Homo sapiens: one gene and its partners. The protein of the gene in region 4 interacts with the protein of the main gene of each other region in a pairwise test. Each region holds a gene or a part of one and is shown on either strand. Other genes may lie near its edges.

Region 1 (3,500 bases), on a different chromosome or scaffold from region 4:
TCTCCCATTAGGGGCAACAGAACTGGGACTCTGGCATTTCAGAACAGAATAGGATACAGGTTTCTCCCATCTTCCTGCAATAGACTTAAAATAAAAAGTCCTTACCAGGAAGTTCCAGTTAGCATCAATTTGAGCCACCATGCCAGAGAGGAACATGCCCAGAAAGAGGAGCGAAAAGAAAAACGCTGTCACGGACACAAACATGACCCATCCTTGTAGTAGAGGTAGAGGAACATTGGAGGAGGCAACCAAAATCCAGACAAGACCCCCGAACAGCTGAAAGAGAAAAAGAGGGTAATTGGTTTGCTTAAAAGATACCTTTCACACAACAGAATTAAACATGCTTGTATTACCCTCAGCATTGCCTTCATTTTCCTCCCAGACCCCTGCACATATTCCAGCAACCCCATCCCTTCGATTTTCCCCTTATTATGTAAGATGCCTTCTTTCCTCAGGTGCAAGATCAATCCTCCTGCTTGGAGAACTGATCCAACTCCACACCTGTATCTTCAGGTTGGACTCGCTTCTTCAACCCATGTACATGTCCAGTATTCCTTCATCATTGACAAATACCTTCCTTTGACTTTACTGATTCTCTGACTACCACCTTTTCAATGAAGGTATTTTTTCAGTCAACCATTTTAACAAATTCATCTTTGCTTGGTCTCCAATTCCTCTCCTTGAAGTTGCTCTTCACATCACTATAAACCAGCTTTTGATCTCATTGCTTCTTAGAGAGTTAGTAAAAAAAATGGATAGAATAATAGTTGCAGCTGTTGTATATGGCGGTAAACAATAAAAACTACCATCATTTATTGAGTATTATGTGTTCGACATAGGAATAAGTACTTCACATATCTATGGATCTAAGTATCAATAAATACCTACTACATTTCAGGCACTATGCCAGGTGCTGGGAATCAAATGGTAAACAGGTTACACTTGGTTTCTGTCACCACAGAACTCACAGTCTATTAGAGGAAAGAGACAAGTAAGCAAGCGATTAAAAAGCTGCTTCATAAATGTCACAATTGGGCAAATACTGGGCACTGCAGGTCCACACAGCAAGGGCTATAAATCCAGATTTGAAAATACTTCCTAGAAGCAACAATCCAAAGCACAGGGCTATGGGGTAAAGCAGAGGGAGGAAAGGGGGGTTCCATGGCAGGAGCTGAGAGTAGCCCCGCATAGGTGAAGAACAAAGCTCAGCAAGACAGGAGGGGCATGTGCTGGTGGGGAACGGAGAGAACTGTACTGGAGACTGAGCGAGGAGGTGCTGAAGCTCGGGCCAAGGAACTGAACTTCACCTAAGGGCGATGACAAAGCCAAGATCATCTTGAGCAGAAACTAGCATGGTCAAGATTTGCCTTTAGAAATTTCTCTCTGGCTAGAATGTGAGAATGGACTGGGGAGGAAAGGGTGGATGGTGAGGCAGCACATCTCTGTGTTTCTCAGCTCTATCAACACAGAGATTTCACAAACATTGGGTAACACAGGAGACTGTTAGACCAACAGAGTGTAAGAATCAGAACACTGAGGACAGAGAGAAAGGAATGGATTAGAGTGAAATTTAGAAGTAGACATGATAATAGTTGGTAACTGATCAGATGTGGGACACAACAGAAAAAGGACAGATAAGGAAAATACCCAGATTTCTGGAATGGGCCTCTAGGCTTGAGAGAACACCGCAGGAGAAATGGTGTGAAGATGAGTTTTATGCATCTATCACCATTGGTCTCCTCCATACTACCATGCCTGGCATTCCAAGCCATTTGTGATCTGACATGTCTTTTTCATCCTTGTCTCTTGCCACTATGCCCCTCACATTTTGTATTAGGGGGAGAAAAAAAATCCACAGTTCCAAGACAAAGATCTTTCACATCAGAGTGGCCTGTTACTTGCATGCCGTGAATGTCATTCCCTCCCTATGTGTACTTGAGATTCTCCCACTCACATCTAATCTTGAGCACATCATTTACAACATTTTTCCTGAGATCCACCCCTGCTCAGTTATGCCTCCCTCCTCTGGGCAACCTCCCTACTGGGCTTTGTTACATCAGTGAGATACACTGTAATTAAATCCCTTTGGCTCTCCATCTGCACTACCAGGCCTTCTTGGCAGCATACTGCTTTATATGTCTCTGCATCCCAAGCCATTTATTAATCTACACAGTAATCCTTTCCTAACCATCAGTCAGGTACTATGCTAGATTTGGCAGCACAAAACCTTAGGCTACATACCTGCCCTGAAGACACCTCAAGCAAGTGAGAATCAATCTCTCTCTCTCTCTCTCTGTCTCTCTCTCTCACACACACACACACACACACACACACACACACACCCAGGGAGAGTGATAGAGCACGCTCTTAAATTATTTGCTTAGTAAACAAGCTAGTGCTCATGTGAGAACAGTTGGAGCTCCAAATATTAAAAATCAATACTCATCTGTACATTGCATTTCAGTATCTAGATATCCAAATTACTCCACAAGTCACTGAAAGTTAAAAACACAAGTTTTAATTCAAGCTTCAAGAAAAGGCCCAATCATATAATTTGTTACTACTTTGAAGAAACATTTTTGAAAGCATAAATGATCACTTGATCAATGATAATCAAATCACCAGTCTAAAAAAATGTATAGTTGTGGTGTATACCTCAACTCCTAAAGTCAAATAAAAAATTAACAATTGATCCAGAAAGTGTTATGAAATAAATCTAATGAATATCAGTGCATCTTAAACATTTAACCACCACCTTATCAGTGCCTATAAAAGAAAAAACTTGTTCCTAATATTATTTACCTTTACATACTATTAAATAAATATCTGAAGGCGATATAAGTATGTCTTCAGTGGATCAATCTTTCCTTTTTTTCCACTTTCTTCTTTCTGGTAGTCTTTTCTTACTCTCCCACAAAGAATAACCTACATAACTTTAAATACAGTTTAAGAAATATACATTAAGTATCTCTTCTGAGTTATTTCCTGAGAACCTATGTGCAAATATAAAGGATAATAAAAAGCAATTGGCCACTGTTTGTTAGGGACAGGCAGAGCCAAATAGATAAACATAATGAGTTAGGGATGATGATACATTCACACCTCTAAAGAGGAGGCTATATGATCCTTTGGAATTCAACACAGCATTTACTAAACCCAGACTGGACCTCAAACAGGCCAGCCCCGAACCTACTGCTAGGTACTATAGAAGAACACTCAAGAAAAAACAAAAAAGGCAAGGTTCCATCTCCAGGAGCTTGAAATAAGGAAGAAATAGACACTATTAAACTGATTCAGGAGCAGATTGCGGTGGGTGCTATAAAAAGAGCTCAACACAGTGTGTTCTGAGAGGCTGGGAGGGGAGAGGAGAGAAGAAATATAATGGGAAGAATCTGGAAAGGTAGGCAGGGGAGGCAGGCTTCAGAGTAAGCTTTCAAGACAGACCAAGGCTTTGACAGCAGAGGCTATACTGTAAAATAGTATAGACTAACCGTTCTTAT
Region 2 (3,500 bases), on a different chromosome or scaffold from region 4:
AAAACAGAGAGAGGGATGCTGGACAGGCACCTTTTGGGGGGCTAATAGAAATTGTTGGCTGGGTGTAGTGGCCTATGCCTGTAATCCCAACAGGAGGCTGAGGCAGGTAGATCGCTTGAGCCCAGGAGTTTGAGACCAGCCTGGGCAATGTAGTAAGACCCTGACTCTACAAAAAACCACAAAAATTAGCTAGGCATGGTGGCGTGCACCCATGGTCCCACCTACTTGGGAGGCTGAAGTGGGAGGATTACCTAAGTTCAGGAAGTGGAGGTTGCAGTAAGCTGAGATCCTGCCACTGCACCCCAGCCTGGGTGACAGAGTGAGACCCTGTCTCAAAAAATGTTTTTTTCTTCAAGGGAAACAGTGGCATCGATTGGACACTGCTTAAATTGCTAACGGGGGTAGTTTAAGGGGGTGGTTCACAGTTGCATGTTAGGCCACACTGCATTCTTTTTTTTTTGAGACGGAGTTTTGCTCTTGTTGTCCAGGCTGGAGTACAATGGCTCTGTCTCGGCTCACTGCAACCTCTGCCTCTCGGGTTCAAGTGATTCTCCTGCCTCAGCCTCCTGAGTAGCTGTAGCTAGGACTACAGGCACATGCCACCACACCTGGCTAATTTTTGTATTTTTAGTAGAGACAGGGTTTCACCATGTTGGCCAGCTGGTCTCGAACTCCTGACCTCAGGTGATCTGCCCACCTCGGCCTCCCAGAGTGCTGGGATTATAGGCATGAGCCACCTTGCCCGGCCCACACTACATTCTTGATGATGTCACATCTTTGTGACAGTGCCTAGCCTGCTGCATGCACCTCATCTCCTAGCTCTTTCACAGCTGATGACACCGAGGCACAGAGGGATTACATAACTCAGCTAATAAGTGGCAGGCTCTGGATCTGAACTCGGGCAACTTGATGGCAGCATCAAATCACTTAACCATTGTGTTTTCATGCCACCCAAATGCGTGCCTCCCACGCACAGACCCCCACTTACCGCTCCCGTAACATACCGTTCATGGATTCTGACACATGACTCAGAATCTGTCCCGCACAGGACGCATACACGTTAGGCGAAGTCATCCTTGGTGGTGTTTCTATGGTGATGAGTCCTGGTTAAGTATAGTCAGCGTCTGAAAGTCTATTTGAAGTTGATTTCTTAGAGCTATATAAAAGTAATCTCTTGTCCAGGCACAGTGGCTCATGCCTGTAATCCCAGCACCTTGGGAGGCCAAGATAGGCAGGTCATTTGAGCTCAGGAGTTTGAGACCAGCCTAGGCAACATGGCAAAACCCCTGTCTCTACAAAAAATACAAAAATTAGCCAGGCATGGTGGCACAGGCCTGTAGTTTCAGCTACTCGGGTGGTTGAGAGAGGAGGATCGCCTGAGCCCAGGGAGGTGAAGGCTGTGGTGAGCAGCCATGATTGTGTCACTGCACTCCAGACTGGGCGACAGAGTAAGACTGTGTCTCAAAAGAAAAAAAAAAGGAATCTCTTGAAAGTTTACCACCAGCAAGAGGCACAGCTCTAAGGCACCACACTTAAGTGGCGGTATGGCCCTATTGCAGTCTACTGGACTGCCCAGCGACTTCTGATGCTCCTGGGCCAGAACCATGTCTGTAAATGCCGTGAGATTCCTCTAGCAATTCCTGCAACACATGTTGACTCCCCAGTCCTGGATCTTCCGACAGCCAAGATGTGTTAAGGAGGTGTCTTCAGATGTTTCACATCTGTACTGGGAACAGGAGTCATTAACCTCATCTTCCCACTGGGGCAGAGCTTGGGTCTCAGAGGACAGCAGAGGTGGCAGAGATCCCTGAATCTTCCAAAGGAAACTTGCTTGTTTGTGTCTTCTACATGCGGAGGATGGTAATTAGACAAGTAGGGAAGATGCTCTGGGCATGACAGCTCACAGAGCTCATGTGAGCAGTTCTCCTTTTTGTTGTTGTTTTGTAAGAGAGGGTCTCACTTTGTCGCCCAGGCTGGAATGCAGTGGTCCCATCATGGATCACTGCAGCTTCAACTTCCTGGGTTCAAGTGATTCTCCCTCTTCAGCCTCCTGAGTATCTGGGACTACAGGCACACACCACCACACTTGGCTAAGTTTTGTAATTTTTGTAGAGATGGGGTTTTGTCATGTTGCCCAGGCTGGTCTTGAACTTCTGGCCTCAAGCATTCCTCCCATCTCAGCCTCCCAAAGTGCTGAGACTATAGGTATGAGTGCCTGGTCCTCCTTTTTTTTTTTCAACCAAGAGTTTCACTCTTGTTGCCCAGGCTGGAGTGCAGTGGTGCCATCTTGGCTCACTGCAACCTCCGCCTTCTGGTTTCAAGCAATTCTTCTGCCTCAGTCTCCCGAGTAGCTGGGATTGCAGGCAGGCACCACCACGCCCAGCTAATTTTTGTATTTTTAGTAGATGGGGTTTCACCATGTTGGCCAAGCTGGTCTTGAACTCCTAACCTCGTGATCCGCCCACTCCAGCCTCCCAAAGTGCTGGGATTACAGGCATAAGCCACTGCATTCAGCCCTGGCCCTCCTTTTTTTTTGAATGGAATCAGTTCTACTTTTTTTTTTTTTTTTTTTTTTGAGACAGCGTCTTGCTCTGTCGCCCAGGCTGGAGTGCAGTGGCTCAATCTTAGCTCATTGCAACCTCTGCCTCCCGGGTTCAAGCGATTTTCCTGCCTCAGCCTCCTGAGTAGCTGGGACTACAGGCATGTGCCACCATGCCCAGCTAATTTTTGTATTTTTAGTAGAGTTTCACCATGTTGGCCAGGATGGTCTCGATCTCTTGACCTTGTGATCCGCCCGCTTTGGCCTCTCAAAGTGCTGGGATTATAGGCGTGAGCCACCACACCTGGCCTTTTTTTTTTTTTTTTGAGATAGAGTCTCGCTCTGTTGCCCAGGCTGGAATACAGTGGCACGATCTCGGCTCACTGCAACCTCTGCCTCCCGGGTTCAAGCGATTCTTCTGCCTCAGCCCCCTGAGTAGTTGGTATTACAGGCGTGTGCTACCACAGCAGGCTAATTTTTTTATTTGTAGTAGATACGGGGTTTTACCATGTTGATCAGGCTAGTGTCGAACTCCTGACCTTGTGATCTGCTCACCTCAGCCTCCCACAGTGCTGGGATTAGAGGCGTAAGCCACTGTGCCCGGCCTCCATTCTACATTTTTATAAGTAATACATATTCACACAGTTAAAAATTCATGTAGCAGCCATGCATAGTAGTTTTTATAACACAACTAAAAACTGGCAACCTGAACGTCCGTGGGAATGGATCATTACACTGAGCACCCAGAGAGAGGTGAAGCAGGAGAGTGAATAAACTGAGCTACCTGTGTTAACATCCTGCAGAAAGTTGCAGAGGGGTATGTACAATGTGGCACTTGCAATAAAGGCAAAAACATTGAAAACAACACAGTATATTGCTTAATGATACATTGTATGTAGTCCAAGTATAAAGACTTGCAAAGGAGTGATAAAGACCACAGTTGGTGCTATCATGGAAATTC
Region 3 (3,500 bases), about 21 Mb from region 4:
CGGATTACCTAAGGTCAGGAGTTTCAGACCAGCCTGGCCAACATGGTGAAACCCCGTCTCTACTAAAAATACAAAAATTAGCCAGGTGTGGTGACAGGCGCCTGTAATCCCAGCTACTCAGGAGGCTGAGGCAGGAGAATCGCTTGAACCTAGGAGGTAGAGGTTGCAGTGAGCCAAGATCACACCACTGCACTCCAGCCAGGGGGACAAGAGCGAGACATTGTCTCAAAAGAAACAAGAAAATAGATCAACAGTGGTTTTCTTTGGATGGTGGCCTAATAGGTGACTTGTCAATTTCTTCATGCTTTTCTATATTTTTTAAAAAAAAGTGTTTCTTTTTTTTTTTTTTGAGACGGAGTCTCGCTCTGTCGCCCAGGCTCAAGTGCAGTGGCGTGATCTTGGCTCACTGCAAGCTCCGCCTCCTGGGTTCACGCCATTCTCCTGCCTCAGCCTCCAGAGTAGCTGGGACTACAGGCAATCGCCACCACGCCCGGCTAATTTTTTGTATTTTTAGTAGAGACGGGGTTTCACTGTGTTAGCGAGGATGGTCTCAATCTCCTGACCTCGTGATCCGCCCACCTCGGCCTCCCAAAGTGTTGGGATTACAGGCATGAGCCACTGCGCCCGGCCAAAGTGTTTCTTTTATAACAGGAAAAATAATTATAAACTTATTCTTAAAAAGAAAAATTCTGTTCAACCCTATATCCCTTGAGGTAAAGGGACCAGATACCCGTGGGAGGGCCTCCTTCCACTGCCAAGAAGAGCGGGAGGTGGCTCACTTCCTGCTCCAGAACCTTCTCGGTGTCCATGAAAGGCAGAAGTCTGGACGCGGGCAGCTTCTCATGGCTGAGGTGTCATGCTGGTGTGTACCTGTAGTCCTGCCCAAAAAGAGGAGGGCAGTTCCAGCTCCGTTTCCCTTGAGCAAACACTGGCTAAGCTGCCAGGCCAGCCACCAATCACCTTCCCAGTTCTGAGAGACCCAGCAGAGGCAAATCTGAGTGGAAGCATCCACATTAGGCCCCTTCTTGGAGTGGGGCCCGGGCTCACAGGCAGGCCTGAAGCTCCATGAGGGCAGAGGCTGCATTTTCATCGTAGTTTCCCCAGCACTGGGCCTGAATGTAACAGGTTCCCAAAAGACACAGGTTGGAGGGACATTTGTAATGATTACAGACATGAGCCACAGGAGTCACAGGAGGAGAAAAACAATTATGGTTATTAAGAGAACTGGTACCAGAAAAGTCAACCCATCCGTCAGGCTGCTTTTCACTTAGTGAAAGGGTCACTTGATCACCTATGATACAGGAGGTGCTGGGCTGGACCTCCACCCGCTTCTGCCTAATTAAGCCCTGCTTCTTTGGGACCCACAGAAAGCAGAGGACTGAAGCAGTGAAAGCCCGTGCCCCAGACTCAAAGGCACGGGCATGCGGCCCCATGGCCTGAGGACGGCTCCCACAGGCCAAGGAACTTTCACAGGACACCCAGCCCTTTCGTCTGCTTCAGAGGACACTTTCCTATTCTGCGCACTGGTAACTCAGCAGCCCTTCTATCTGGGGAGCAGGAACACGGCGCACCAAGTGTGGGAGTCGAGAGGGTGGATTCAAGTTCCCTCTCGGCTGCCTACTGGCTTTGTGTCCTAGGGCAAAACACCCGGCCCCTCTGAGCCAGTTTCCCATGTTGTCAAACGGGGCCAGAGGCCCTGGCTCTCCCAGAGGACTGCAGTGAAGATGGGAACAGTCGCCAAGCACTGCCCCTCTGCCTAAGACACATGTGGCTGTTGAAATTTAAATTAATTAAAATTAGACATCTTAAAAAATTCAGTTCCTGGCCGGGCACAGTGGCTCACGCCTGTAATCCCAGCACTTTGGGAGGCCAGGGCGGGTGGATTCCTTGAGCCCACAAATTTTAAGACCAGCCTAGACAACATGGTGAAAACTCTGCCTCTACAAAAAATACAAAAATGAGCTGGGCGTGGTGGTACATGCCTGTGGTCCCAGCTACTCGGGAGGCTGGGGTGGGAGAATGGTTTGAGCCAGGGAGACGGAGGTTGCAGAGATCCGAGATCATACCACTGCACTCCAGCCTGGGTGACAGAGCCAGACCTGTCTCATAAAATAAATAAATAAATGAAACCTCAGTTCCTCAGAGCCACACGTGGCTAATGGCTGCCCTAATGGACTGCAGGGACACGCCAGGAGTCTGTCATGCCAGAAACTCCTACTGGACAGCCCTGCTCTGAAGAACTGTTATGACTACTACATGGCTGTCAGCTTTTCCTGAGAACTGTGCCCATAAAGTGGCTGCTGGCACCAGGGCGGAACACCGTGGCAGTCAGGAGGTTCCCGGGTGTGCTCGGTCATGGAGTGCTGCCCAACTCCACCCCCCGCACCTCGCTCATTGAAGAACAGGTGCACACCGACAAGCCGGGGCAGAGGAGCCACCTCCCCACCTCCGTGGACCCAGGCGCAGCCCTCCCCTCTTCAGAAAGGGGAGCCTTCCCTGGAACATGACCTAAAGGACTGAACCACTGAGACACAAATTAATGCACTTGGAATCCAGGCTGCTTGAGTGAACCAAGGAAAACAGAAATTCTTGAAAACTTGAAGGCACATCAATACTGAAGAGGATGAACCCCATCCTTACCTACGAATCCAACTTCTGCGGCCAGAACATGTGGCTTTGCCTTTGTTAAAGAGCTGAGCAGAATCCCACAACCAGTGGCTAAACCCCCACACACTTGGGTGCAGATCCCGTATCTGCTCATCTCATCCCAGCCAGAAGGAAACAAAAACTCCCGCCACACACAAAAGCAAGCATGGAGTCTTTCAAGAGAGATTAAATACTCCCAAAGCCTGAGAGTCTAAAAGGGAAGGATCAGATCAGAAAGGGAAGCTGTCACCCCGGGACCATGACCCAACCTGCCCCCGGGGCCTGTGCTCCATCTGCTCACTGGATGAACGTGTAAGGGCCACCTGGGACCAGGCACACCTGAGTTCACAAAGAAGAGGACAGGTCCTGGGGAATAAAGCATGGCAAGGAAAGCCATGAAAGTCAGCCCAGGGAACTGGCTGCCTATAAAACGCTGGAGCAGATGGCCGCGCAAGCCAGGGGAGGGGCAGGCCACAACAAATAACTTCGCGCTAAACCTGAACTTTTAGCCCCGTGCATCTGGCCCTCTGCACACCCCAGGTTGCCTCATATCATGCTCAGAAGCAGATCAAGTACATCTTCACGTGATTATAAAAACAGGAACTCAAGAGCACACAGCTATACTCACATTCCAACAATCACGGAGGGCTCTGGGAGGTTCAGGGGCCCTGAGACAGTGAAGCCGAGCAGCCCAAGTAAGACAGGCAGGGCTGTCTGTGAGCTGGTCCGGGCTGGCACACGGTGGCAGAACACAGATACCTGCACTGTGCTTTCCTAGATGGGCAAGTGTGTCTCAAAGACGCCGACAGGACAAGTGGCAATCTGTTTGATGTGCTCGTTGCCAGTGTGCTGAA
Region 4 (3,500 bases):
CTGGGCACAGTGGCTCATGCCTATAATCCCAGCACTTTGGGAGCCTTAGGTGGGTGGATAACCTGAGATCGGGAGTTTGAGACCAGCCTAGCTAACATGGAGAAACTCCATGTCTATTAAAAATACAAAATTAGCCGGGCGTGGTGGTGTATGCCTGTAATCTCAGCTACTCAGGAGGCTGAGGCAGGACAATCGCTTGAACCCAGGAGGCAGAGGTTGCAGTGAGCTGAGATTGTGCCATTGCATTCCAGCCTGGGTGACAGAGTAAGGCTCCGTCTCAAAAAAAAAAAAAAAAAATTATACAACTAACATGAATTCATGTTTATCGAAAAAAAAGTACAGGCATGGTGGCTCACGTCTGTAATCCCAGCACTTTGGGAAGCCAAGGCAGGTGGATCACCTGAGGTCAGGAGTTCGAGACAAGCCTGGCCAACATGGCGAAACCCCGTCTCTACTAAAAATACAAAAAATTAGCTGGGCATAGTGGCGGGCACCTGTAATCCCAGCTACTCAACAGGCTGAGGTGGGATGACAGCTTGAGTCCGGGAAACTGAGGTTGCAGCGAGCCGTTATCGTGCCACTGTACCCCAGCCTGGGTGACAGAGCGAGACCCTATCTCAAAAAACAAAAAAGCAAAACAGAAAAAACCACCTAAACACTAACAAATTGGTTTGTGGGGAAAAAAAGAGTTTAAAAAAAAAACAACAAATAAAACCACACACAACAGGCCACATGTGGTACCTAAAGCCTGTAATCCCAATACTTTGGGAGGCCGAGGCAGGAGGATCACTTGAGTCAAAGAGTTTGAGACCAGCTTAGGCAACACAGCAAGACCTCATCTCTACTGAAAAGAAAAACATTAGCTAGGTGTGGTGGTGCACGCTTGTACTCCCATTTACTTGGGAAGCTGAGGTGGGAGGATTGCTAGAGCCAGAAGGTTGAGGTTGCAGTGAGCTCTGATTGTGCCACTGCACTCCAGCTTGGGAGACAGAGCAAGACCCTGTCTCGAAAAGAAAAAAAAAAGTATCATTTATGACATTTATAAGAAAATTGGAAATGTGAACACTGACTAGAATCATTAATTTTTTGCATGTGATAATGATGGCAGATGTTTCTTAAAGTCTCTTTTTCAGAAAAATATACTGAAATACCTAGATTAAATGATATGACACATCAATAATTTGTGTCAAACAATAAGGAAGACGTAGAAAAGAACTGGGGTATGGAAGACACAAAATTGGCCAGGAATTGAAAAAAATAATATTATGTACATGGTGGCACACAATATTATTCTGCCTACTTACACATGTTTTAAGCTTTCCATAATAAAATATTTTTAAAATGATCCATTATCCACATATGTACTCTAAAAAGTGTGAAGACAGGCTATTCTCTTCATTAAAAAATTCACATATAAAAACACTATGGTTTTAAAACTTTTTCACATAATACATAGACAATTAGCCTGATGTGGTGATGAACTCCTGTGGTCTCATCAGCCATGAGGTGGAATGATCACTTGAGCTCAGGAGTTCCAGGGTACAGTGAGCCATGATCACACCACTGCAATCTAGCCTGGGTGACAGAGTGAAACCTTCTCTCAAAAAAAACAATGAATGGGCCAGGCGCAGTGGCTCAAACCTGTAATTCCAGCACTTTGGGAGGCTGAAGCAGGTAGATCACTTGACATCAGGAGTTCAAGACCAGCCTGGCCAACATGGTGAAACCCCATCTCTACCTAAAAATACAAAAATTAGCTAGGCATGGTGGCGGGTGCCCGTAATCCCAGCTACTCAGGAGGCTGAGGCAGGAGAACTGCTTGAATCCGGGAGGCGGAGGTTGCAGTGAGCTGAGATTGTGCCACTGCACTCCAGCCTGGGCAACACAGGAAGACTCCATCTCAAATAAAATAAAATAAACTAAGACGGTGGCTCAAGCCTGTAATCCCAACACTTTGGGAGGCTGAGGCAGGCAGATCACGAGATCAGGAGATCGAGACCATCCTGGCTAACACGGTGAAACCCTGGCTCTACTAAAAAATACAAAAAATTAGCCGGGAGTGGTGGTGGGCGCCTGGAGTCCCAGCTACTCGGGAGGCTGAGGCAGGAGAATGGCGTGAACCTGAGAGGCGGAGCTTGCAGTGAGCCGAGATCGCGCCACTGCACTCCAGCCTGGGCAACAGACAGAGCGAGACTCTCTCAAAAAAAAAAAAGAAAAGAAAAATAAACGAAAAATAAACTAAGAAGGTTCCAACTTTTTTTTTTTTTTTTTTTTTGAGACGGAGTCTTGCTCTTGTTGCCCAGGCTGGAGTGCAGTGGCGCGATCTCGGGTCACCACAACCTCTGCCTCCCAGGTTCAACGGATTCTCCTGCCTCAGCCTCCCAAGGTAGCTGGGATTACAGGCATGCGCCACCATGCCCGGCTGATTTGGCATTTTTAGTAGAGATGGGGTTTCTCCATTGTTGGTCAGGCTGGTCTTGAATTCCCGACCTTAGGTGACCTGCCTGCCTCGGCCTCCCAAAGTGCTGAGAATTATAGGCATGAGCCACTGCGCCCAGCCAAAAGTTTCCAATTTTTTGATGTAATAAAAGCTGAACTATACATCACTGAGCATGTTACTGGGTCAAAGGCATTAACTATTTTAAACAAATAGCTTTATTGGTCGGGCACCGTAGCTCACACCTGTAATCCCAGCCTTTGGGAGGCCGAGGCAGGTGGGTCACTTGAGGTCAAGAGTTCAAGACCACTTTGGCCAACATGGTGAAACTCCATCTCTACTAAAAATACAAAAATCAGCCAAGACATGGTGGTGCACGCCGGTAGTCCCAGCTACTTGGGAGGCTGAGGCAGGAGAACTGCTTGAATCTGGGAGGCAGAGGTTGCAGTGAGCTGAGATCATGCCACTGCACTCCAGTCTGGGCCACAGAGTAAGACTCCGTTTCAAAAAAAAAAAAGTAAGAAAATAGCTTTATTGAGATAATGGTTTGTATACGATAAAATTCTCTTTCAATTCATCTGCCAGCAGCAGAGATGAAAAAAAAATCACAATGCTGTACGACTAATAGCCTTATGTAATTTCAGAACATTTTCATCACTCCAAAAGAAACCCATACCCATTAGTATTCTTTCTCCATTTCCCCCAGCCCTGGAAAAGCTTCTTAAGTGGCTTAAAATATGTTACCAAACTACTTGCTAGAAAGGCTGTCCAATTTATGTTCCTATCAGCCATATGCCCATTTTTCCATATTTTCCCCAGAATTAATTATGATCATTAAAAATACTTAAGGCCAGGTGTGGAGGCTCACACCTGTAATCCCAGCACTTTGGGAGGCCAAGGTGGGTGGACTGCTGGAGCCCAGGAGTTCAAGACCAGCCTGGGCAACATGGTGAAACCTTGTTTCTACGAAAAATACAAAACAATTAACCAGGTGTGGTGACACACACCTGTAGTCCCCACTACCTGAGAGGCTGAGGTGGGAGGATGGCTTGAGCCCAGAGGT

Evidence for each region. Proteins that work in one complex are often made in the same cells at the same time.
Region 1: the proteins of RETREG3 (region 4) and MAL2 interact in binary tests that used the Homo sapiens proteins (3 or more experiments, as listed by UniProt).
Region 2: the proteins of RETREG3 (region 4) and TMEM120B interact in binary tests that used the Homo sapiens proteins (3 or more experiments, as listed by UniProt).
Region 3: the proteins of RETREG3 (region 4) and TMEM11 interact in binary tests that used the Homo sapiens proteins (3 or more experiments, as listed by UniProt).

What each region holds. Positions count from the first base shown.
Region 1 is NC_000008.11:119,218,363-119,221,862, reverse strand, and holds part of MAL2 (protein MAL2), read right to left. Parts: intron 621-3,500; exon of another isoform or gene 456-620; intron 277-455; coding exon 106-276; intron 1-105. UniProt on the Homo sapiens protein: Member of the machinery of polarized transport. Required for the indirect transcytotic route at the step of the egress of the transcytosing cargo from perinuclear endosomes in order for it to travel to the apical surface via a raft-dependent pathway.
Region 2 is NC_000012.12:121,719,252-121,722,751, forward strand, and holds part of TMEM120B (transmembrane protein 120B), read left to right. Parts: intron 1-3,500. UniProt on the Homo sapiens protein: Necessary for efficient adipogenesis. Does not show ion channel activity.
Region 3 is NC_000017.11:21,207,662-21,211,161, forward strand, and holds part of TMEM11 (transmembrane protein 11, mitochondrial), read right to left. Parts: exon of another isoform or gene 3,275-3,500; intron 1-3,274. UniProt on the Homo sapiens protein: Plays a role in mitochondrial morphogenesis.
Region 4 is NC_000017.11:42,599,375-42,602,874, forward strand, and holds part of RETREG3 (reticulophagy regulator 3), read right to left. Parts: intron 1-3,500. UniProt on the Homo sapiens protein: Endoplasmic reticulum (ER)-anchored autophagy regulator which exists in an inactive state under basal conditions but is activated following cellular stress.